Regions from separate parts of the Homo sapiens genome. Here regions 2, 3 and 4 are each linked to region 1. The links come from fine-mapping of genetic effects on gene expression. A gene starts in region 1. Each other region holds a variant in brackets. All regions are shown on one strand. Distances are from middle to middle.

Region 1 (6,126 bases):
GCTGCTTGTCGCAGGCATGATGGCTTCAAGGTTACTTTGCACAGCTGGAACGCTGGCCATGAAGGCTTTGAGGGCTTGCAGTCCCAGCGGGGTGCAATCGCAATAAGACATATATGAGTCTGAAGAGCAAACTCATTTATATCCAATTGCTTAGTGGATATCTTTACTTGGATGTCCAAAGGGCAAATCAAACTCAACATGGCCCAAACTTGTTCCTGACCTTCCCTTTCCAGTTCCCCCTCACCAAACCTACTCCTCCTATCACTTCCCCCATTTCAATTAGTGAAAACTCCACCATCTTTGTTGCTCAAGTCAAATACTTTGCAGTTATCTTTCATTCACCCTCCACATTCAAACTATCAGGAAATTCCATCAGCTTTACTTTCAAGTCTTTAATAAGGAATCTGACCATTTCTTTCCACCGGTACAGTTACCACCCTGGTTCAAACCATCTCTCACCCAAATGATTGCACTAGCCTGCTAACTAGTCTCCCTGTCCATACTTCTATTGGTTTGTTTTCAATGCAAGAGCCAGAGTGATCCCTGTTACAAAACATGTTAGATCATACCACTCCTCTACTCAAAATCCTCCAATGGCTACCTATCCTACTTAGAGAAAACCGAAGTCCTCACACAATAGCCTACAATATCCTACACAATATATGGCTTCTGGTTACCTTTCTGACTTCATCTTTCACTACCCTTTTCCTTGCTCATTGCACTCCAGCTACACTGGCATCTTTGCTGTTCTTCTAATACATCAGAGATAGTATGCACTTGCCATTCCCTTTGTCTGGATAATTCTTCCCTAGATAGCCACATAGCTTATTTCCTTGCATCCTTCAGATCTTTATCCAAATGCTATCTTATTAGTGAGTCCTTCCTTGATCATCCTATTTAAAATATTTATTATGAGGGAGGGGAAGAAGGAGCCAATGCAATGACTAGTCTTTATTGGAGAGAAGATACTTTACAGCACATTTTGAGCAATTAGTGCCAGGGCTCACTGGGCCAACTTGTGGGACATCAGCTTGTAATGGGTTCATAGTTAGAGCATCACTGGGTCTCGCCTTTGTGCAGCCAGAACCAGTTGACAGCACTGTTGTCCTCTTCACCGATGCAGCTCACTATTATCTTGGTGATGGAGGGAGCTGTTAGGGTCTTCCCTGGTGCCTGAAGCTGCCTTTGGGGGTAATATATTGTATGGGTCCAATCTCATACATGGCTGTCATGAACTCCCTCTCCAGCCCAGTCATCTGCTTGTCATCAGTAGGAACGCCACCTCCAGATGCCATGAAGCACACTGCAACCACCCCATTGGGACTGTAAGCCCTCAGGCCTATGCGGCTAGCGCTCCAGCTCTGAAAATTAACCTTGAAGCCATCATGCCTGTGACAAGCAACAGCTGTGTTTATTTATTTATTGAGACAGAGCCTCACCCTGTCACCCAGGCTAGAGTGGAGTGCCATGAACATGGCTCACTACAGCCTCAACCTCCTAGTTTCAATTGATCCTCCTGCCTCAGCCTCCCAAGTAAGCAACTCTATTTAAAATCTTAATGCCTCTTCCATCTCTATCACCTTTCAGTTTTATTTTTATTAACACTGATCACTAACATCTATACATTTTACTCGTCTAGTTTATTGTCTACCTTTCCTTCTACACAGATTGTGAATTCCAAGAGGACACAATGTATATCCTGTTTGTTCGCAGATGTACCTTCAATGCCCAGAATAGTATCTGGCATAGAATAAACTTTCTAAAATAAATATTTGTTGAATAAATGAATTAAAAATCTAGGTGATAACTTCAGGCATGGTTAGATCCAGGTTCTTGGCATGTCATTAGAATTTTGTCCTGTCTCATAGCTTTTCTCTCCTCTGCGCTGGCTTCATTCTCAAGCAGGCTTGATGTGTTACAGGTGATGATAAGACGGCCACCAGCGGCTGCAGGTTTACATTCTAATAATTTTGCAGCCTAAATGGAGAGAGAGTGAGTGCCTCTTTCCTGATTGTTTCAGAGAAAGCCTTGGATATATCATATTGTCTGGGCTTGGGTCAAGTGACAATCCCTAAAACAGTGTCCATGGGTAGAGGAGGAAAATGTTGTGACTGACTGGGCCTGGGTCATGCGGTCCTTTGGAACTGGGGATAAAATTCAGCTCCATTTAGACTGAGAAGAGGGGAGAGGTGGTTTCCTAAAAGAAAAGGGGGTGCTCTCACTGGAAGAAGATGGCGGCTAGACAACAAATTTCCACCGCAAATGTCAACGACCCAGCCGCCGACTGAGCCCAGAACAGCGTTCTTCTCCCGCCTCTCCATTTTCACACGCAGCCAGATGGTTAAGCTTCTCTCCTCCCAAACGTTTTTTCCCCTGCCTCTGTCGGGTAAGGGCTTCCTCATCCCTCAATGCCTGGTCCAACTATGATCTCCCTCACCCCGACTCTTAACAGGTACTATCTCTCTCCCTCTTCTGAGTATCCTGCTTGTTTCTACTTCTCTTGTAGTTAGTTTTGTACGCCATGCCTTGTATAATATTTTACTTACTTGTATACATCATGAGTTCCTTTTGAAAAAGGGTACGGTCCATTCCCGGTGTGTCCACGCCAGCCCCTCACGCCCTCTGGGAACCGCGGTGATTCGATGCCGGCTGAGGCCGCCAGGGAGCGCTCGGCGCCCGGCACGAGGCCGTCAAGGGCGGGAGGCGCTGTGATTGGCAGACGCGGCCGTCAATCGGGCGCAGGTGGGGCGGGCCGGGCCGCCTGTGAGGCCTCTGGGCGGGAGGCGGGGCCTGCATGAATGGGGCGCGCGTCGCGCGGGCTGCAGTCGGCGCTCGCGGGGGAAGCCCGAGTCTCGGCCGGGTGTGGGTGGGAGGAAGCGAGGTTGGCGGGGGAAGGGAAAGAGCGCGGGGGGCGGGGAGGGGCAGCGCCCGGGCGGCGCGCCGAGCGCGGCGAGGCGGCGGGTGTGAGCAAGAGCCGGCCGCCTCCGTCCGCCTTGCTTCGGTGCGGCTGTCCGCTACGCTGCCTCCGCCCTCGCCGCGCGCCCCCGCCAGCGGGACTCCAGGGAACCCCCGGCGCCCTCGACGGGGCCGAGGAGTCGGGACTCGGGGAGCCGGCGCTGAGGGAGGAGCCTGGTCGGAGCCGCGGAGCCGAAAGCTCCGGAGCGTGGAGGTGGGGGGCCGAGGCCCCTGAGGGGGCCCCGCCGCGATGGGCAACCTGGAGAGCGCCGAGGGGGTCCCGGGAGAGCCCCCCTCTGTCCCGTTGTTGCTGCCGCCCGGCAAGATGCCGATGCCTGAGCCCTGTGAGCTGGAGGAAAGGTTCGCCCTGGTGCTGGTGAGAGCTGAGCCCAGCCCCTTCCCCCGCGTACCGCCCCTCAGGTCCCGACGCCCGGGCTGGGACTTTGTGCTGGGCCCCCGTCCCGCCCACCCTTTCAGTCGGGGTCCCGAACGGATCCCGGCCTCCAGTGTCTTCCCAGGAACCTCTGAGCAGCCGCTGGCCGGCCCGGACAGCCCCGTCGGGGATCTCGGGACCGACGCCTCCACCGCTGGACCCTTAGGAGAAGTCCCCAGTTCGGGACCGTCCTAGGAACCAGGCTTCTCCCTCCTTCTTCCTCCCCCTTCTGCTGCCCTTTTCCCGTTTCCCCGCTTCTTCGCCAGGCTCCCCGTCCCTAGCATTCTCAGCCCGGAGCCTCTCGCGGGTGGGGGGAATTCAGAAGCGCGGCCGGCTCGCTCCTCAGCAGGCTTCCCTGAGTGGGGACACCGCCTCTCCTGCGAACATGGAGGCTTCCCAGGGAGTGGGTCCCACTCCCAGCCCAGACCAGATGTTTGGGGGGAGAGGGGGATGGGGAGGCGGCTGGCAGCTCCTGAAGGGGGTGGAATAAAGAGTATGCCATTCTGCTTATTTTCAGAACGGCCTGCAGGCATCCTGCTAAGTTAGAGTGGATTTGCCTGAAAGGCTGAACATGTGGATAAACCATTTCACTGGGGTATTTCTCCAAGTGAAACAATACACAAACCATCCCGCCTCCTCCCCCCCTTTTCACGTTAAGCCATAGTGACTGGTTTGTGTTGTTTAGCCTGTGCTTTTTAGTCTTTCTGTGGGTTTCAAACGGTCTGTATAAATGGGTTTTTAGAGCTGACTTTGGGATTCTTCTTTGGTGTGGGAATTGGACATTGATGTCAGTGGCTCTATGAAGCGAGAGGTTCTGAGCTGGTATCACCGGGAAGGAGCCAGAAAATATGTTTGCGCTGAAAATGAAGTTTTGCAGAGCGAAAACATTGGTAAACCGGGGTTAATCTTTGAGAAATTTGGGGAAATAGTTCTCACTTCCCCAAAGAGTTTTCTAAGAAGCAGTAATAATTCTGGCGTTATTGTTGGTATGGCCGACTCTGCCTTTGCCTCTGCCCATCAGGAGGGATAAGTTGTGGACTTAGCAGCCTTATTGGATTTCATCTGCCTTGGAATAAGGAGATTAGATCTGTTGGCAACAGTGGAGCTGTCTAGAGATCTTGGCCTCTCCGATGGTAGAGAATCTGACATCAGCCCACTGGCACCAGAGCTGGCTCAAAGAGGGTCCACAGTGTTCCAAGGGGAAGTGGTGTCGCTGGCACCTCTCTGCCCGCCAGCTCTGCGAAGGGCCAAAGGGATGTGGGCCATACATCCTGTGGCCCTCTGCATTTCCCCCAGCCTCCTCGGGGGATCGGGTGAGTCAGTGATTACCAATGTGCTGTGACCATCTCACAGGCTGAGGAGGAGAGACTGGGACTTAGTGGCCTTGAGAACAAGAGCCCAACTGTTGGGGAAAAGAGTGGGAGGGGATCTGCACTCTGGTGGGGGTGTGAAAATCCCCAGCAAGCTGACACAAGTTAGCTATAGAAACTGGGGAGAAAGGGATGGGGTGAGGTGGATTGGGTGGGAGGCTGCCTTAGGTGGGAGCTGCCAGGCCATTTTTTGTGAGAGCTCAGAACCAGAATCCATCATGTTCTCATTGGCCCTTGGTTGACCATTTCGTTTAGTTAGCAAACTAATGGCTTAATATTCACAAAATGCACGTGATGTCCTAGTTAACCAGGACACCAGAGCACCAGGAGAACCCAGGTCAAATGGGGGACTGGACCACCCACTTGCATGCCTTCCTTTCTGTATAAAATTTTGATTTGTTTCCTCATGCCTTTTGTTTTGGTCTTGTTTCTGTGTGCCTGAGCTGCTGCTGATGAAGGGTTGGAACAGGGCAGGCCAGAGCTAGTTAGTTGTCTCAGGAGACGGGATTTCACCTCAGTTTTCCAATACAGGGAAATCATCCCTTCTTGGGGATTTGAGTTCTTCTCTGGGGGCTCTTAAGTGTCCCTGTGTCCACTGTTCTGAAAGGTACCCTTTCTACCATGCTTTGGGAACAGTACTGACTGAGTCAGGTGTTTGACCCAGGTACAGGCTTAGGGGTATTTCCTGAACAGTCAGGAGAAGCATAGTGTAGTAGAAAAATCAAGGACTCTGGCTTAGCAAGTATCTTAACTTCTCTGAGCCTAGACTTCTTCCTCATCTGTAAAATGGAGGTAATCCTGTTCTGGTGAGATTGTGAGAATTAGGTGAGCCCCTGTATATAAGGTGCTTGGCACCCAGTAAGTACTCAATATAGATTATAGATTAGCTTCTTTTTTTTTTTTTTTTTTTTTTTTTTGAGATGGAGTTTGGCTCTGTCATCCAGGCTGGAGTGCGGCAGCACGATCTCAGCTCACTGCAAACTCAGCCTCCCGGGTTCAAGCAGTTCTCCTGCTTCAGCCTCCCCAGTAGCTGGGATTACAGGCGCGTGCCACTAAGCCTGGCTAATTTTTGTGTTTTTAGTAGAGATGGGGTTTCGCCATGTTGGCCAGGCTGGTCTCGAACTCCTGACCTCAGGTGATCCACCCGCCTTGGCCTCCCAAAGTGCTGGGATTACAGGCATGAGCCACTGTGCCTGGCCAGATTAGCTTATTTTTGTTGATGGTGTGAAACAGTCAGATAAACTGTTCCTTTCTCACCTTTTTCTTTCCTAGATTGTCAGCTTCATTATAATTGGTTAGGTTTTTTGAAAAAGCTATTTGGGAGGTTTGTTGAGGTGACATAGTGGTGTCCTGGTTAAGCTTATGGAC
Region 2 (6,126 bases), 120 kb after region 1:
CTCATGCCTCAGCCTCCTGAGTAGCTGGGATTACAGGCACCCGCCACCATGTCCGGCTAATTTTTTTGTATTTTTAGTAGAGACACGGTTTTGCCATGTTGGCCAGGCTGGTCTCGAACTCCTGGCCTCATGTGATCCACCCGCCTCAGCCTCCCAAGGTGCTGGGATTACAGGCTTGAGCCACCATGCCCAGCCTGTTTTGTTATTTTATTATTATTATTTTTTGAGACAGAGTCTCACTCTGTTGCCCAGGCTAGAGTGCAGTGGCATGATCTCGGCTCACTGCAACCTCCAACTCCCAGGTTCAAGAGATTCTCCTGCCTCAGCCACCTGAGTAGCTGAGATTATAGGTGCACACCACCACGCCCAGCTAATTTTTGTATTTTTAGTAGAGACTGGGTTTCACCATGTTGGTCAGGCTGGTCTCGAACTCCTGATCATGTGCTCTGCCCACCTCGGCCTCCCAAAGTGCTGGGATTACAGGCGTGAGCCACTGCACTCTAGGGTTTACAATATAAATCTTTAACTTATCATAGTCTACTTTCAAATAATATTATTTCATGTGTAAGAACCTTACAATAGTATACATCTATTTCTTCCCTCCCGGCCTTTGTCCTACTGTTGTCATACATTTTGTCTCTATGTAACTTATAAATCCCCTAATGCAGTTGGCCCTCTGTATCTATGGGTTCTGCATCTGTGGATTCAATCAACCACAGATCAAAAATATTCGGAGAAAAAAATAGATGGTTGTGTCTGTGCTGAACATGAACAGACTTTTTTTTCTTGTTATTCCCTAAACAGTATAACAACTACTTAGATAGTGTTTATATTATATTAGGTATTATAAGTAATCTAGAGACCATTTAATATATACAGGAGGATGTGGGTGGGTGATATGCAAACACTGCACCATTTTATATAAGCATGTGAGCATCCACAAATTTTGGTGCCTGTGAGGAGTCCTGGAGCCAATACCCCACGGATAGCAAGGGACAACTGTACATTGTTATTACTTTTCCCTTAAGCAAAGGGAAAAGAATAATCTATTTACCCCCACACTTAACATTTCCAGTGCTCCTTACTCTTTTGTGTAGATCCAAATGTATTTTGGGTATCATTTTCCTTCTGCCTGAAGGATTCCTTTAACATTTCTCACACTGCTTATCTGCTGGTGATGAATCCTCTCAGCTTTGGTGTCTGAAAAGGTTTATTCAGCTTTCAGTTTTGAAAGATGTTTTTGCTGGATGTAGAATTCTAGGTGGGCAGCTTTTTCTTTCGGTATTTTACAGATGTAAACACAAACTCTTCCCAGGGATATATGAGCTCTGAGGATGGTTCTGCCTGTTCTTGCCCAGTGATTCTTCCCCCAGCCTTGGTGGTTTCCTCCCAGGCCTGCACAGAGACTTAACGGGACCCCTCTGCAGAGCTTTGGAGATTCCTTGCCATGTGGCTTCCTCCTCTCTGGTACTCTGGTTTTCAAATTCTAGTCACCTTGGCTTCCCTGATACCCAGATGCTGTCTCCTCATCTCAGCAAGGCTGCTGGCTTCTGTTTGGGTTCCCTGCCCTGTGCTGGGGCCTGGACATTGTCTCATTTGTTTCATTCCTTTTGGGGATCATTGACCTGCACTGCCTGTTGTCTGAATGGGTATACATCATTTTTTCATCTATTCTGTTTGGCCTACTAGTTGTTTACAGGAGAATAGTAAACTAGTCCTTGTTATTCCATTATCACTAGTTTATCTCCTCAAAAAAAATCCTATACTATTAAGATTCATTTTAAATGTTAAAAGTTCCAAGAATTCCTATATACTAGTAGTTTTACTTTTTATTTATTCAATTTTTGTACAATTTTAAGTATGTACTTACATTCTTGGGCTCTTGGCAAAAAATCCATTGCCCCTCAGGGGACCATGCCCTATGGGTTAGGAACCATATGGGTTTAGGCCAACAGAATGAGAAGGTATCACTCACTCTCTTAATCTCTACACTTGGAGCCTATCCTCATCTTTTCCATGTCCTTACTGAGACCTCGTGTTTTTCCTCTGAAAACTAACACTAGCAGAAACCTTACTCTTTCACCCCCTCCCCACCACCCCACTTTACCTTGGCAGAATTCAGTAAAGTAACCATCCAAAATGTATAGACCTGGTTTTAACATTCATACATCAAGTACAACCCAAATAAATCCCAAGATGTTATGTGATCTGGTTATGCCATTGTATCCATTATATCCCATTCAGAGATATAATGCTCACTCACCTGCCAAAAATAATAAAAAAGTAACCCCAATCTTTAATTGGGTCACTCATAATCACTAAAGTGGGTCCAACTTATAATTCACAATCATGAGATTTTCTTATTTTTTCCTCTCCTCTGCCATTCTCTCATATCCAGAAAACCTCTTTAAACTCCAAAACAGTCTTTGACACCCAAACTTCCTTTTCTCTTTGTTTAGATAAATGATTACTAATCTATGGGCCATACACCACTGAGGGATAATGGATCCATGTGTATACCACTAATTGTCTATATACTGAATTACTAAAAAAAAACTTATATTGGAATCCTTGAAACTTCTGACATTTAAAATAAATGCAAAATAGTATACAATTAAAAAAAAAAGGCCAAAGAGATAACAGCTGAAACTTGGGAATAATGGAATAAAAGACTCCTATATTCTCCTCTTTTGACTTTTTTTTTTTTTTTTTTTTTTT[G/TG]GAGACAGAGTCTCGCTATTGCCAGGCTGGAGTGCAGTGGTGCGATCTCGGCTCACTGCAACTTCTGCCTCCTGCGTTCAAGCAATTTTCCTGCCTCAGCCTTCCGAGTAGCTGGGACTACAGATGCACGCCACCACACCCAGCTAATTTTTGTATTTTTAGTAGAGACGGGGTTTCACCATGTTGGCCAGGATGGTCTCAATCTCTTGACCTCATGATCTGCCTGACTTGGCTTCCTAAAGTGCTGGGATTACAGGCATGAGCCACCGCGCCCAGCCTTGATTCTTTATTATAGATATATAGATATAGATTTAACTTCTTTGTCTTTTTTTTTTCACTGATGTTTTGCCCGTTTCTAGATTCTCTACAACAGATGTAAAACAGGAACCCAGCAAATTAGAATTCATACCCTTTGGGACGATTAATAATTTTGTCCCCATTATACAAGTATTGAGTTTATATCCATATCCATCTTTCATATGGCAGGAATAGCTCTCTGCACCACCCATGAGTATGGGATCTTTCCCTGCCAGACTCCTTCATTTGCAACACTGGCTTTGGGATGAGCAGCCCTCAGCTCAAGACCTGAGGCTCAGGCTGCCAGGAGCAGAAAAGCAGCAAGTGCCGACGTGGTCCCTAGGGGCAGCTTGGAGGGATTGGAGGAGCCCAAAGTTGTGAGTCAGAGCCTGCTGGGACCTGCCCTAGGGTTGGGTCAGGAGGTACCACCTGCCCCCGAGTCTTGAGTGGCAGTGGCCTGAGTCTAGGGGAGGCAGCATGCTGAGGCATTGGTGTGAGGGCTGGCATCAGGCAGCCAGAAGAGCCTTGGCCATGGAGGTTTCATATCACCTTATACCAGTCCAGATAATCTCCTAGAGGCATCTTGACTGGCTGTTTGTTTGGGGATTGAGAATGAAAGGGATATGACAATTCTTTGAGTGGCTGTGAAGGTTCCCCCAGCTCCTCACCCAGTGCCAGGGCTGGGGCTGGACGAAAAGATACCCAGTGCAGTCCAGGCACAACCTGGCCCCCTGCCATGAACCCTGCCTGGAGCTGCTCTCATGGGTTCCAGCTGCTCTGGTTTCATTTTCTTCCTTGCTGTTTTGCCCATTATCCAGCTTCCTCACAACAAAGGAGAAAACAGGAACTAACACAGCAAAAAAGAGTTCAAGGAGTTTCCAGCAAAGGTCTGATACCTTGTGGTCCCAGGGTTTCTAATTGAAGGGATTCCCTGGGCCTTACCCTCTCCACTCAGCCCTGAGTCCAGCAGGGGCACCAACAAACAGACAAAGCCTCCTCACGACCTAGAGAGGAGATAACTTCCTGTTTCCCTGATGCCTCTCTGCTGGTTCCTCTAGCTCCAGCTGGAGTGGAACGTTCACCTGAACATCCCTGAGGTCACCTCGCCAAAGCCAAAGAAATGCAAGTTGCCTGCAGCCTCACCCCGGCACATCCGCCCCAGTGGCCCCACCTACAAGCAGCCCTTTCTGTCTAGGCACCGGGCATGTGTGCCCCTGCAGATGGCCCGGTAGGTTCTGGGAAGCTGAGGGGGCAGCAGCTGTATGGGTGAAGAGGCAGGGAGCAGGGGTGACCAGCCTGGGGAGGTGGGCAGTGAAGTGAGGGCACCAACAGGCCAATATCACCCTACGAGTTGCAAAGTGCCTGTCTTCTCAGCTGCCCTCCCCAGTGCTGGCCACTGACCCACAGGTGGGGTGTATGTCATAGTGTGTGGGCTTCAGGGACTAGCCTGACCAGTGCATTTCAAACTATGCGACGGAAAGACTCTGAGGACCCACACCTGAAAACTTATAACCTTTCTACCCTGAGCATCGATTTGGCATCTGCCGTTGGTCTGTCCTATAAACAAGCCTGAACCTCCCCACCATGTGACCTGCAGGCTCTGGAGACACTGTGAACCTCTGGGGCGCTAAAAGGACCCTGGTCCACACCTACCCTTGCATGGCCTAGATCAGGGCTTCTGCCCCAGGGCCTGTTCCTTGAAGGACAGGGGCCGCCCTGGGAACCTCTTCCAGCAGCTCCTCAGCCAGAGGAGCCCCAAGGAAGTGAGATTCAGACTCAGTGTTGGAGGGGAGATGAGGAGGGCAGTGACACACTCGATTTGAGAAGGGAAGGAGACAAAGCTCACTTGGGCCTGATGGCTCTGGAGAGTCTCTTGCATCTCAATCTCTCTCTGTTGCTTTTCACATTCTCCAAACTCCCCACTCCCAGCCAACAGGGGAAGCAGATGGAGGCTGTCTGGAAGACCGAGGTGGCCTCCTCCAGTTACGCAATAGAAAAAAAGACCCCTGCCAGCCTTCCCCGGGACCAGCTGAGGGGACACCCAGATATTCCCCGGCTGTTGACACTGGACGTGTAGTCCTCCTGCCACAAAAGCCTGAACTTCCTGAAGGCCCAGTAAGGTGCGAGGCTGATGGTCAATGTGGATTCTCCCCAATAAATCTCTCTCCAGGCTTTAACAATGACCTCATTTGCTATCCCACACCAGATAGAGAGAGGCTAACCTGGTTCCTTTGCTCGGCGGCTGTAAGCGGGGTCCCCATGCCAACAGCACTTCGGTTCTGGTGAAGGGTTTCCTTAGTGTCTCAGAGGCCACCAGGGGGCTTTTCCTTCACACTGGCCTCCTGGGCTGCACATAAATTCTGAAGAGCCCCATCTCACCCTAGCCTTGGGGGTGGTTCTCAGGGGAGCCAGGTGTAGGGAGGGAGAGATGAGGGAGCCCTTGGACTGCCTGAGAAACCTGAGCCTTGGGCCTGGGCCTGTCACTTCCTTTCCTTACTATCTTCAAGAACGGTCCCTAGAAAGAACAGCTGAGGGGACAGAGGTGGGACTCCAGGGGCCAACAAGAGGCTTTTCTGGTTAGAAGTCTTAGCTCTCCTTTGCCTCTCTGGGCTTGTAGATGTCACTACTGGAGGCTCAAGGCTCTTTTAAGGACCCTCTCTACATGAGCAATCCCATCTGCCTCCTGTGACCCTGGCCCTGTGTCAGTTACAGATCCCCAATGGGGAGAGGGTCCTGATGCCTCCAGTCTAGACCTAACCAGAGCCAAGAGCCTGAAGATACTGGTGCTTCTCCCATCCTCCAACTGGAGACCTCAGTGAGACAGGGAGGCATAGCAGCATCAAAGAGGGCGAATCCCTGGCCGCACCTGCGCTCTGAAATGGGCCAGCATTCCAGCTGAGAGTCCTATCATTCCAGCCCACCCAGTGCAGAAACCTGGTTTCCAATTCCTGGAGGGTTTCCAAGGGGGATGTGCATGTGTGTTGCTGTTGGTTGTTGATTTAGATACAGCGAACAGAATGGAGAATAACCAAAACAACACTGTGGGAGAACACTGTAACCCAGTGGTCAACTGGGGCCTGGCCTGGCAGAGATTTGGTTAAACTTACCCAA
Region 3 (6,126 bases), 33 kb after region 1:
TATGATAAACATATATATTGATTGTCCAAGAAAAGGTGAAGAAACATTAACCATAAGTCACAATTCCATGAACACATTTAAAAGTAATTAGTAAATGTGCAGAGACACTGTTAGGGGAGTGGATGTTACTACTGTCATTTATGAAGGATTTGCTAGAGATGGTAGATTTCACCTGTTGTGAATTGGAGGAGGAGCATGGCTGGCAATTCGAAAGGAGGTAATCTCTCTGGGGTACAATGGAGTAGAAAACTTAGGGACAGAAGGAATATACGAATGGAGAAATTCGATTTGCCCAATCTTTATTGCTCACCTATTAAAGTGCTAAACAAGCTGATGGTGATTCCTGTTCTCAGAAGCCTGTGTTCTAGCAGGTTATAAGAAGATGAGTCTGGTTAAAGAGAAGAGCAGGGAAGTGGCTTAGATTATGGCATAAACTGAAGTTGAAACTCAGAATGAAAAGTAGGAGTTTGCTGAGGGGAAAGCAATATATAAAGTGATTTGTGCTATAGGACATAAGACAGATTATAGATAAGAGAACTCAGAAATAGTAAGGACAGTGGTAAAAAGTTAAAGGATCCTCCCTTTCCCCAGTTAACCAGGAGACCAAATAAGGGACTTGGTGGTAGGAGTGGTAGGAGCAGGATCAATCACTTATTTATTAAGCACCTGCACATGATTCAAAGAAGGATAAGACGGCCCCTACCCTTAAGGAGTTTATGTTCTTTCTAGTTGTGAATAGAGAAAGCATATGCAAAAAAAAAAAAAAAAAAAAAAAACCCACTATGAAACATTCAATTTGTGCTAAAGGTCCATGGTATCAGTGTCCTGGTATTTTCTCTCTTGTTATTTCATCCATGTGGATTTCATTTCCAAGGTCACTTCATGGTCTAAAATAGTTGTTGAAGGTTCGTCCACTGTCTATATTCCAACTAGCTAGAAGCAGAAAGGAGAAAAGAAGGTTATATTCCCTCCCTTTAATGACATTTCTCAGAAGTTGTGCACACGACTTCTGTTTACATCCCACATGATCACATAGCCATACCTAAATGCAAGGGAAGCTGACAAACATATTAATTCTAGGCTGTCAAGTGTCCAACTCAGCGTTGGAGGTTCACTACTAAGGAGGAGGAGGAGAAGAGGTTGGGGGATAACAGGCAGGTCTCTGCCATTTTATTCTTTAAATGTGATTATGCTTGGAGCTCAAGAGAGGGGCTGATTATTTTAGGTTGGGTAGTCATAGAGCTACTGGATTTTAAGTCAGGTAGTAGGTAGTAGGTAGGGAGTCAGCAGATTGGGGAAACATCAATCACAAGCAAATCCTAGGGTTAAGGAATGGGAAGAGTGGCTGTCCCAGGAGAGAGAGATTCCATAGAGTGGGAGAGGATGAGGCTGGTCAGAGAAGCTGGGGCCAGCCTGGAGAGAATCTTACCTCAGAAGCTCTTACTGTAAGATGCTAAGAACAATAGGCCAAGGAGCTCAGGTTTTCTCATATAAATGATAAGGAGTCAAAAAAGATTTCTGAACCAAGGAGAAACATGATTTATCTTATGTGCTTGGAAGTTTGAAAGTTTCATTCATGTGCAGGATGGCAGGGAGGAAAGTATTGGAAGTAGGGATGCCAGCTAGAAGCTTATCCCAGAGGGCGGCAAGTGAACAGTAACGGCCCACCCAGGTGATGACAGTGGGAATGGAAGGGCAAATATAGATGAGAGACCTTGGGAGGGAGACTCACTGGGCCTGTTGGTATGAGGAGAAAGGGAGTTGTGACCCCAGAAATATTGTGTCCTCTGAGAGGTAGCACTGCCCATTGGGCTCCCCAGGTGGGAGGACAGAACCTCATGAAGAGAGGGAGGTCGTTGGTTGGCTGCAGGGAGAATGCGAGGCTCTGCCCCAAGACTCCTTGGCTTTGGAAAATAAGCTGCCCCCAGCAGAATACTTTCCATTCTGCGTAACTGGGGAGTGTGTGGGTCTGGCTAACCACGAGGAGGGGCCGAGGAGCCAATAGACAGATCAAGTTGCTGTGGCAGTAGCTTTTTACTAGGGCCTGGGTGCTCAGTTGGGAAGCGCTGACAGAAGCTCCTATCGGAGATTGTATATTTTTTGACTGGGCAGGCCAGAAAGGGTGGCCTTAATCAGGGTTTGGGGACCTCAGGGTTACCTGCAGAGGTTATCTCATGTCAGGTATGAGGCCAACAGTGTGGCAGAGGAAAGAGTTTGAGGCTTTACCAACTTTGGGGACATGGCCAATATCCTTTGCCTTCTCAGGATCCGGTGGAGGAATTCTCTAGGATGAAGAAGAGGCCCCGGGGGTATAATTGTATTTAGAAAAAGCCATCTCTTTGTTTGAATGATGCTGGCCTTTTAGGACCTCTCCTTCATCTGACTTCCCTGGTGTGAACTGCAGAGCTCAACCAGAGACATCTGGTGAATCCATTTCTTTTTCTTCCAGGCTGCTCAGGGACTTGGCCCGTAACTGCTCAGCAAGTCATTTCTGGTTACAGAGTCCTCAGTGACCACAAAAGCACGTTCTCCAGACATGGTTCCGAGCCTGTGAGAGCTGGCTTTTCCCTGGCAGCTCATCACCAGAGTGGTAGCTTCAATTGAACAAAACCTGCAAGGCAGATCTAAGATACTACAGACACTTAAGGAGCACCCATTTTTCTTATGCCTTTTGTCATGTGGTACCTAAGCAATTTGTTCAGATGTCTAAGAGGGCAGCTGGGGCCTAGAGAAAGCTGTGTAGCTAGACTTGTACTCACATGCTTCTGTGTGTGGGGTCACATAAGGAAGGAGATGAGTAGTAATGGGGAGCTGCCCTGGGGAGGCTGTAGAGTTTGGCAGGACCAGGGCTGGAGGCCTAGAGTCCAGGGAGGTAACTGCTGCCTTTCATCCTTTATATTCTTGAGTGCTTTGGTGTGGTGGTGGGGTGGTACAGCTGAAGTGTTTGCCCCTACTCTATCGAGGCAGGGCAGGGGGTTGCCTGTCCTTCTGGCCAAGTGTTATTGACTGTTCTGTGATTTCCTTTCTGCCACAGGATATAGATCTTTGCCCAGAACCTTTCATAGTTGACTCAGCCCATTTCAGGCTGTCTGTTTCAAGTTATCTTCTCCAAACCCGAGCTCTGGAGAGGAGGATGGGAGGGAGTCAAAGCAAGGAGAGCAGTCTTGAGCTTTGTCTCCCCAGGTTGGCAGCGAAGCCAGGCTTGGCCTTGGTCTGTGAGAGCTGCAGTGAGATCTGACCATCCATCTGTTCCATTTCCTCCCCTGTGCTACCCCAGCCAGTCACAAGGCTGGGGAAAAGTGTGGGTGTTTGGAGGGGCTGCCGTACTTCCCATGTCTGGACCTTTTAAAATTTTAGCTCTTGGACCTTTGATCAAACTCTCTGATTTTTTTTGATTCCCTTTTACAAAGGATTGCAGTTTTGAGGGGAGTTAGAAGGAGCT[G/A]TGCTGGAACAATGAGATAAACAAACAGTGACGTGGAGGCGGCGGCAGCAGCAGTGTAGGCAATGGGCTGGGCCGGCTGGCCTGCCGTCTGGGCGGGCTGGGTGGAGGAGGACTCCCGCCCTGCTCACTGGCCAGCTGGCTTGTGTTAAAGTGCTGGCTGAAAATAACTCTCATTGTCTAGGAGCTGCTACTGCGGCAGGACTGGCTGTGGCCGCCAAGGGGCCAAGGCAGCAGGAGCTGGTACCTCCCACCTCCTTGGGCTCTTGCCCTTTGGGAGCAGGGCCCAACTGGCCACAGCTGTGCCTACTGCCCACCAGTAGAGACATGTGGAGGCCGTTCCTTACACTCTGTCCTTTTGGCAGCTAGTAATGGGCCTTTGTGCCTTGTGTTGCCTGCTTTGCCACTGGCTTGGGGCAGATCTGTTGGTTTGTGAGGGGAATCCTAGTGGGAACATGGGAACATGGGGTGGGAACACTGTGTTACAGCTCCTCCTTCAGCAGTCTTCTGGACTCCCAAATTTTGTGTCCACTTGCCACTTTCCATCTTTGCTCATCTGCTCAATGAGCTGATCTGTGGATGCCACGGAGGACTTGGACCTGCGGTCAGGGGCTCAGCAGCACGTTGAGAAGTGTGTGGTGCCCAGGACAGCACTCATTTAATCTGTGGGGCAGTTCTAGATTCAGTTTCTCAGGACTCCCTGTCCCCATGGGCTGAGTGTGGGGGCTGAGGCTACCACACTTGGGAGAAGACAGCCATAGGAAACCTGGTGGGAGGTGGTTCAAGAGGGAAAACATTAATAAAACTACCTCTCACTTTCTGTATTTGCTCAAAACAAACAGCCCCTGCTGGAGCTTCCCTAAAGCCTCCAGTTTCTTTCCCAGGAACATTACAAACGTCTCTCTCCCTGTCTCTCGAAGCTATGCCATTTTGGTCTCTGTTCCTAAGATTTATCATGATAGGGACCAACAAAAACAGTTGGGAATTTTTGGTGGTTCCTATTTCTGTTTTTTGGGTTTTCCCCAGGCCTGGCTCAAGAAGACTGTCAGAGTAGGGGCAAGTCCCAGAGCAGAGCTCACAGCTTTGAAGGAAACTCCAAACCCTACCGGCATTTCCCTTCCCCTGCAGTGGGAAGGAAATGAGGAGGGGCTCACTGGGCTGGGGGTGCAGAGTGGGAAAGGGAAGGGAACCTCTGCCACCAGAGCTGCCTCCCTCCTTGGCTTGACTGGGGCTGTCAGGGGTCAGGTGGAGAGTTAGGAAACCTTGCTGGAGGGACCAGGCCTTGCTCACATGCACCCCATTGTGCAGGGAGATTTGCCTGGCCTCAAACTGGCAAACAGAGCAGCCTTGCTGGAGAAGCACCAGCTCCATGCCTTTCGGCTTCTTCCCATTATAGATTTTTATTATTAGATGTTTTGCTGGTTCCCTGTGATTTAGGAATCGGTCCCAGAGTTGCTTTCAGTTTGAGTTCATCTTCCCCTTTTCCTCACATCTCCTATTGTGACTGTTTTGGCTGTGACTTACCTCCCTTACTTCTTCCTTGGAGTCTCCTGCCATGTCCCCCACCCCTCAAGATAATGATACCAAAATTGGCGCCTAGTCTTAGAGGAAGCCAGAGCAGGATCAGTGAAGGGATAATGGATTGCTCTGTAGTCAGAGTGTTGCGAAGCAATTGCTGAAGGTGGGATGGAGGCAGAGAGAGAGAGACAGCCTAGAAGCAAGAGGGCAGGTCCCTCGGACATCAGAACATGACACAAGATTTTCGGGAGGAAGCAGGCGGTGAGGGGGACTGTGTTGAACACCCACAGTGTTCCAGACACATACAGACATAAAATATTTATCTTTTAATCCTCAGCTAAAACCCTGTGAAGTAGTGAGATTATCTCGTTTATGGATGCGTTCACCAAGGCTCCATAACTCTGAAGAGCCCAAAGTTGATCTTGGGCCCTCTGACTTCACCCACATTTAGTGCCCTCTCCTTTCCAAGACAGCCACTGCCTCCTTTCTGCTCAGCAAGGGTCTCAATGAGGAGTTAGCAAGAACTTAGCTCAGCTTCTGCCTTCTGGGAGCCTACAGTGTCTGTGGAACCACTGAAGAAAAAATGTCAAGGAAACAAACTTTTGACTGAGACCGGAACTGTGTCAAATTTGCTACTTTGCTGTCCCCGGAACTCAGGAAGTTGTCATTCCTAAGGGCAGAGAGGCTTCCTTAGGACATTGGAGCCCTGCCAGACTCACACACATTATCAGGTAGAGGCAAAAGCCCTGATGCCCTTGTCTAGCAGGAAGAGAACTGTCCAGGCCAGGCTCTGGTTTATGCCCCCTTGGCAGGTGGCTCCCACTGGCAGCCAGTGACCCGTTTCTTCTGAGAATGCTGGAGCTTGGGGGAATTCCCCTTACCCACCTCCTTCCCTATCACACTTCAGCCCAGAAGAAGCAGAGAAGTCTGAGACCACTGTCAAGAAAGTGCCACCCAAAGCTCAAGACAGGAGGATATGGCTATGGTCAGACCTACTTCATGCCTCTACCACCCGTTTCCATACTTTGGGATCATTCCTTCCTGGGGATCTAGAGTTTGACCAGGTCCCTGCTGTGCCTCTTCCATGCTCTTAGGCCAGGACTCCCCAAGGGGGTGACTTTGCCCAGTTTTTCAAACCGAGGGGACCAAGTGTTTCCTCATCAGTTCAC
Region 4 (6,126 bases), 45 kb after region 1:
TTGGATTGGCCGTATAGCCTCTTCATCTGGCCCCAGGCTGCTGGCTGGGCACACAGGGTCTGGTGTCCTCTGAGGATGGTGTTCCTGTTCATCTTCCCTGCCATGGGGCAGAGTTGCCCCTTGAATGGCTTCTGGCTCCCCAGAGCTTTGGACTGGTTCTTTACTGGCTTTTCTACCCCCTCAGCTCTGCCAGCTGCTGACTAGATGTTTCTGGCAAGCTTGAGGCCTCTCCTGGGGTCCTCTGCCTGTGGCTTTGAGTGGAAGACATTCCCACAGCAGTTGAGACTGGAGTCTGCCTGTGGCCTGGTGCTGGGCCAAGCGAGGCTCAGAGAAGGCTGAGGGTGGGGAGAACATACTATATTGGGTAGCTGAGACCTAGTTCCCATTCGGTGACTATTTGGACTTTTTGGTGCCTGGAAGTTTATTTGCTTGTTTGGGAGAAGATAATCTTAGTTCATGAGCAGAAGCTTCCTTAAGCACCAGGAAAGATGTAAGGCACTGGGGGCAGGAGCTGAATGTTTTCTATATTCACAGACCCTGGTGTCCCCAACACATTGATAGGGCCCTTAGGAACTGTGTGAGTCTTTTTTTTTTTTTTCCAGTCCCTGAGTGGGAAACCAGGAATTGCTGAACAAGCAAAGAGCTAATGTGTAAGGTACAGTGAAAGAGGGTATTGGCCTCAGTGTTACGAAACTGTAATCAGCAAAGGTATATGCAAAGGTATATGAAAGTGAGAGAGAGAGAGAGAAAGTGTGTATATGTGTGCGTATGTGTGCTTATGCAAAAGGACAGTGAGGGACACGTGATGTAGAACTGCAGGCAGGGGTATAGACCTGATGGGAGGGCCTGGCACAAATGTCCAGTGCTTATGAGTGAGCAGTGGAGGCCCAGGTGGGGGTGGGGTGCCCAGGCTTCCTGACAGGGGGTTAGAGACAGCCAAATGACATCATTAGCCTTTCCCCTCCTGTTGTAGCAGCAGCCCTCATCCGCCCCCAGGGCAAGCCTTCCCAGGATTCTTTAGAGGGAGGGGACACCTGTGTGTAGCCAGCTGTAGCAGCAATCACAAGGGAAACAGCACAGGAGAGAACAGGAAAGGGATGGTTCCTGGCCTCAGTAACTGTGCTCTGGTGGCCAGAGTATGGCTTCTGTACCTCATCTGTGAATCAGACATTGAAAGTCAAGCTGCTGAGAAAGGTGTGGCCAAGCCTCTTCCTTTGTTTGGTCAGTCCTTCACTGACTTCACTGACTGAAGGACAAAGTGGCAGGGGCTGCTTAGTACCCCTGTGTGTGAGGGCAAGAAGGACACCGATGGCAACCCTGAGTGCTACCTGCCACCCTGAGCCCCCTACCACTCCGCATTCCTCCATAGGTCCCTTCTGTCCCTCTCAGCCCTTCTGTCTTCTTTTTGTTTATTTGTTTTTTAAGACAGGGTCTTGCTCTGTTGCCCAGGATAAAGTACAGTGACATGATCATGACTCACTGCAGCCTCAACTTCCAGGGCTCAAGTGATCCTCCTATCCCAGCCTCCCAAGTAGCTGGGAGCACAGGCACACACCCATGCCTGGCCATTTTATTTTATTTATTTATTTATATTTTGAGATGGAGTCTAGCTCTGTCGCCCAGGCGCCATCTTGGCTCACTGCAACCTCTGCCTCCCAGGCTCAAGCCATTCTGCCTCTGCCTTCCGAATAGCTGGGACTACAGGCGTGTACCACCACGCCCAGCTAATTTTTGTATTTTTAGTAGAGATGAGGTTTCACCATGTTGGTCAGGCGGTCTCAAACTCATGGGCTCAAGTGATCTGCCTGTCTTGGCCTTTCAAAGTGCTGGGATTACAGATGTGAGCCACCGTGCCTGGCCTGCCTGGCCACTTAAAAAAAAAAATTTAGTAGAGATAGTTGCCTAGGCTGGTCTTGAACTCCTAGGCTCAAGTGATCCTCCTTGAGGATCCCAAAGTGGAGCCACTAGTACCTAGCCTTGTTTTCTTGATTAAGTCTTGCTGTAGTCATCTGAGGATAGGGGTGTGCTTTTATTGGGAGAAGGCCACAGAGCAGTTTATGATAGTCCCTGCTGCCTGCCCCCTCTACCTGGTGCCTGCCCCTCTGGCTGCTGGCCAGGAGCTATGTCCAAAGCAGCGTGGTTCCCAGGCCTGGGGCCTCTTGGCAGTTGGCACACAAGTTAGAGGTCCTGGACCTGGTCCTTTGTTCCCAGGGAATAGCTCAGTGCCTGGCATTTTAGGCATGCCTGCCATCTGAACTGCGGCTTCTCTGGGTAGAGTTATGTGGAAGGACCAAGATCCTTCCTGGATTTCTGGGCAGGAAGAGTTTGTCAGATTGTGGGTGCTTCAGGGTGGCAGGAACCCAGGGCAAGGTGGGGAGAGGAGGATCCTGCTTTGGTCACAGCCTGATCAGCCCCAGGGCTTGCAGAAGTTGGGTGTGCAGGAGCAGCAGATGGGAACTCAGGTTCTGGAGAGGGATAGGCTGGGAAGTGGGATTCCAGAGCCTCTCCAGCTCCTCTTTCCCTGGTTTGTATTGGTTTCTGTGCCTTGCCTAAGCACCCTTTAACCTCTCCTCAAAGTGTCAAGATCCCGAAATAGCAGTATAGACTCAGACAGGAAATGAGAAGGGGGTGGGGAGCTGGAGAGCAGACAGACAGGAAACGGGAGGCCTGTTGGCCCCCAGAGAGGAAGCTAACTTCAGGCAGCTCCGGTGTCAGTCAGCTTCAGCCAGAGCCTGCTGCCTAATCTCAGCTGGGCCTGGTGTTGTAGCTCCAGAGTCTCTCTGTAGTTTGGGGTGTGGCTGGCCAACATGGCACTGGTTTTCCAGCTGTTGGGGAGAAAGGCCCCGCAGGGCAGTTTGGGAGGAGCTTTCCTATAAAGACCCCCAGAAATTCTGAAGGAGTAGAGCACTCTAGATTAGGGTTTCATCCTGAGCGTTTTATGTTTCTGCTATGGAATGAACCTGTCATATAACAGTTCCCTAGATTTGCCCTTGACTTTCATTCCAGGAATATCTCAGCCCAAAAGAACTGAAAGCAGAAGGGAAAATAATGCCCTGGGATATGGTCCTTAGGTGCTTTGTTGTCTACCTTCCTGGCTGAGGGGGACCCACGTACTCAGGTTGACTCTGAGTGGTCATAGACATCCTGGAGTTCCTTGAGTTCCTGTTCATCTCCCATGCTTTTTCTGGTTCTGCCAAACTCAACATGACTAAATACAGAACTTCTATACATCTCTGCTCACTGCTTTCTAAAACTCCTCTCCTTAAACTT[A/G]GTAGAGAGTGCTTTGCCCCAGGATGCCTCTGTTCCAGAGCTCTCCTTGACCCTTCCTGCTGGGGTCTTGACTGAGGCTTCAGTCAAGTTGGAGACTTGCTGGCTTCGGTCAAGCACAACTCTGCACACGGGCCTGTAGTAAATGCTCTTGATGCTTCCTAAATTCTTCCAACAAACACTGAGCAAGGACATGTGGAGGGATGCAGAAAATAATTGAGCCAGGGTCTGGCCCTTAAGGAGGGAGTACCTGAGAGCTTGTTTGTCTGAAGCACCTTCACGATAAAGCAAGTGGCATTAGAAGGGCCTGAACTTTCCCCATCCCTGACTTCCCTGCCTAGGGGAAGTCCATGACCGTGGATGGGTCTGTCATGGGTTTTGATCTTCAGAATTTTCTTAGCCTGGTGCTGGGTTCCAGGAGGAGGAGGTGTTGGGTCAGAGGCATGTCACCCCCCTCATCCTTGACCCACTTTTAGCAGACCCCTTCCACTGTGTTTCCTTTATCTGCAGGTGGGTGCGGGAATTTCTGAATGATGAAAACAAAGGCCTGGATGTACTGGTGGATTACCTGTCCTTTGCCCAGTGTTCTGTCATGTGAGTACCACCCCGGGGCTGAAGTTGGGGACCAGTTGGGGGAGGACATAGTTCCATTCTACTTTGATAAGGAAGGGTGAGAGTTCAACAATGAAGATGGAAATGGGAATCCTGGACAGGAAGGAGTAGCCCAAGCAGTGGTGTGGAAGTAGGCAGGCAAGCCCGGAGATGTCTGGGGATCAGTGAAGAATGGCACTTGGCTGGAGTAGAAGATAAGATGCATTTTGGAGAACAGGACAGAGAGATGGAAAGGGAGCTTGGAATCAGAACCCAAGGCATCCAAATGCCAAGCTGTGAGCAATCCAGGGAAATGTCCTGGCTTCTGGTAGAGATGCCTTGGTGGGATCCATTCATCTTTGCAGAGTTGAGTCTTCCAGAAGCAACTTTGGGTTTCCAGATGTGAGAAGGTTACTCCAGGTCATTGTTGAAGAACCCAGGAACAGTGAGTTCCTTTTGACCTGGATAGAAAAATGAAGTATTCAGGAGTCTTTTTCTAGCAGGCAGGGGGGCTTGGAGGCAGCCAGAAGTGAGTTAGCACAGAAAAGGCGGCCTGGTATAGTGGAAGGAATGAGAGCTCTTGAGTCAGACAAAGCTGGGTTTGGGTTTCAGTTCTGTTATTTACTATCTGTGTGACTTCAAAGCAAGTTTGTGTCTTCTTCTATGAAAGGAGATCCACATTCCAGGGTTGTTGTGAAAATTAGATGATAACGTGTGTTAAAGCACTTAGTATTATTTGGAACATACCGGGTCTGTATTGTGGTAGCAGATCTATTGTTAATTTCATTATTATTATTTAAAGTGGCATACCCTACCACAATTACCTGAATATATGAAATTACATAATAAACATAATGACCAACACATTTAGACTTACACCTAAGACAGGTCAGCCTTAGGGAGACCAATCTTCCCAGTTTGCCCATAACTTTCCCTAGTTTTCCCCAGCGTCCCAGGAAACTCCTCCATCCTAGGACTTAGCCCTGACATTTTTTTGAGACAGGGTCTTGCTCAGTTGCCCAGGCTGGAGTGCAGTGGCACGATCTTGGCTCACCACAGGCTTGACTTCCTGGGCTCAAGCAGTCTTCCTGCCTCAGTCCTGCCTCAGCCTTGCTGAGTAGCTGGGACCACAGGTGTATACCACCATGCTTAGCTAACTTTTTGTGTGTTTTTAGTAGGGACGGGGTTTCACCATGCTGCCCAGGCTGGCCTCGAACTCCTGGGCTCAAGCGATCCACCCTGCTTTGGCCTTCCAAAGTGCTGGGATTGCAGGCGTGAGCCGCTGCTCCCAACCAGCTTCCACTTTTCTAACTACTGTCCTTGCCCCCTTGGCCATTCTTCTTTGTCCAGCAGGTCTTCAGTGTCATCCCCTTAGGAATTTGATGCTTCTTCTATGTTCGGCGCCTCTCACCTTTTCCAGGTTATCCTGTTAAAACCAAGAGTGGCCCACTGCATTCTTGTCTCAGCAGAAGTCATACCTCGTGTGATTCTCTTATCTCCTAAAAAAAATTCTTTTTATAGAAAGAAATGAAAAACATTTGGTGAAATAATTTTTCTTAAAAAATTCAGAGCTTTTATAGTAAAAAATGTAGCTCATTTTTCCAAATAAGCCTCTCTCTCTTACTTGAAAAGCAAACAAATTCCAGCCACCCTAAACCAAGAGTACCCTGGAACCTCAGTATTGTAGTGTCCATGGCAATACCTTTGACTCTGTTTTTAAAAAAGAAGGACTTTGTGTGGGGGAGAGAATGTGTGTTTTAGGAAGGATTGAGAGGGAAAGGGTGAGGCTAAATAGAGTTGGAGTGAAGATAATTGTTTGTAAACTGCATATACCAGTACAAGAGGATACAGTGTTACTGATGGAATCAGCAAGCTGTTTCCCTGTCAGGAGGTTCCTCTGATGTCTACTTGAGAGCCCCATTAAACACCTCCTGATCATGAGGACACTAAAGCCTGCTCCCACTTCCTTTGGAACATTCTGACGTCTGTAAATATCCCTTCCTATTCCAGAAAGCCTCAACCTCTGTGCCTTTGACCCCATGTCTGAGCAGAATGCTTCTTGGGGGAGAAGAACCTGTAAGAGATGCTCCCTTAGTCTTTAATGACCTACATGGAGGAAGAGGACAAGAAGGAGGAGAGGGACTGTTTCTCAGAGGGGTATATCCTGAAGTGAGGATGATAAGAGAGGAGTCCCTGTGAGTTTGTGATCTTGGCCATCTTCCTTGTCCTGGCCACATTGACAAACTGCTGACGGTCGCTGGGTGCAGT

Direction of the effects. Positions count from the first base shown, and alleles are read on the strand shown. Sizes are in standard deviations (SD) of each study's normalised expression. Not every link is listed here.
With allele TG in place of G in region 2, the expression in memory regulatory T cells of the gene that starts at base 2,981 in region 1 is lower (large effect, 0.87 SD a copy in Schmiedel 2018).

Evidence for each region.
Region 2: its variant is fine-mapped to the expression of FMNL3 in memory regulatory T cells (Schmiedel 2018, PIP 0.95).
Region 3: its variant is fine-mapped to the expression of FMNL3 in testis (GTEx, PIP above 0.99).
Region 4: its variant is fine-mapped to the expression of FMNL3 in blood mononuclear cells (TOPMed, PIP above 0.99).

Annotation. Positions count from the first base shown.
Region 1 is chr12:49,704,260-49,710,385 of GRCh38, reverse strand. FMNL3 (formin like 3) reads left to right here and starts at 2,981. Exons shown (of 26, transcript NM_175736.5): 1 at 2,981-3,331. The coding sequence starts at 3,206. It overlaps LOC124902929 (a long non-coding RNA gene), which reads right to left and starts at 2,660. Exons shown (of 3, transcript XR_007063299.1): 1 at 2,547-2,660. It also overlaps the pseudogene COX5BP5. RefSeq lists an enhancer at 2,398-2,547 and a silencer at 2,568-3,337.
Region 2 is chr12:49,586,571-49,592,696 of GRCh38, reverse strand. FAM186B (family with sequence similarity 186 member B) reads left to right here. Exons shown (of 7, transcript NM_032130.3): 6 at 4,074-4,243; 7 at 4,945-5,192. The coding sequence ends at 5,092. Among named protein-coding and RNA genes, the nearest start is that of FAM186B, 16 kb to the left of the region's middle. The variant G/TG (reference allele first, on the strand shown) is at 2,719.
Region 3 is chr12:49,671,171-49,677,296 of GRCh38, reverse strand. The region is part of intron 1 of FMNL3 (formin like 3); the gene reads left to right. Among named protein-coding and RNA genes, the nearest start is that of FMNL3, 33 kb to the left of the region's middle. RefSeq lists enhancers at 2,638-2,717, 2,768-2,857, 3,081-3,779. The variant G/A (reference allele first, on the strand shown) is at 3,443.
Region 4 is chr12:49,659,701-49,665,826 of GRCh38, reverse strand. FMNL3 (formin like 3) reads left to right here. Exons shown (of 26, transcript NM_175736.5): 5 at 3,778-3,861. Among named protein-coding and RNA genes, the nearest start is that of PRPF40B, 39 kb to the right of the region's middle. RefSeq lists enhancers at 2,268-2,427, 2,001-2,939. The variant A/G (reference allele first, on the strand shown) is at 3,271.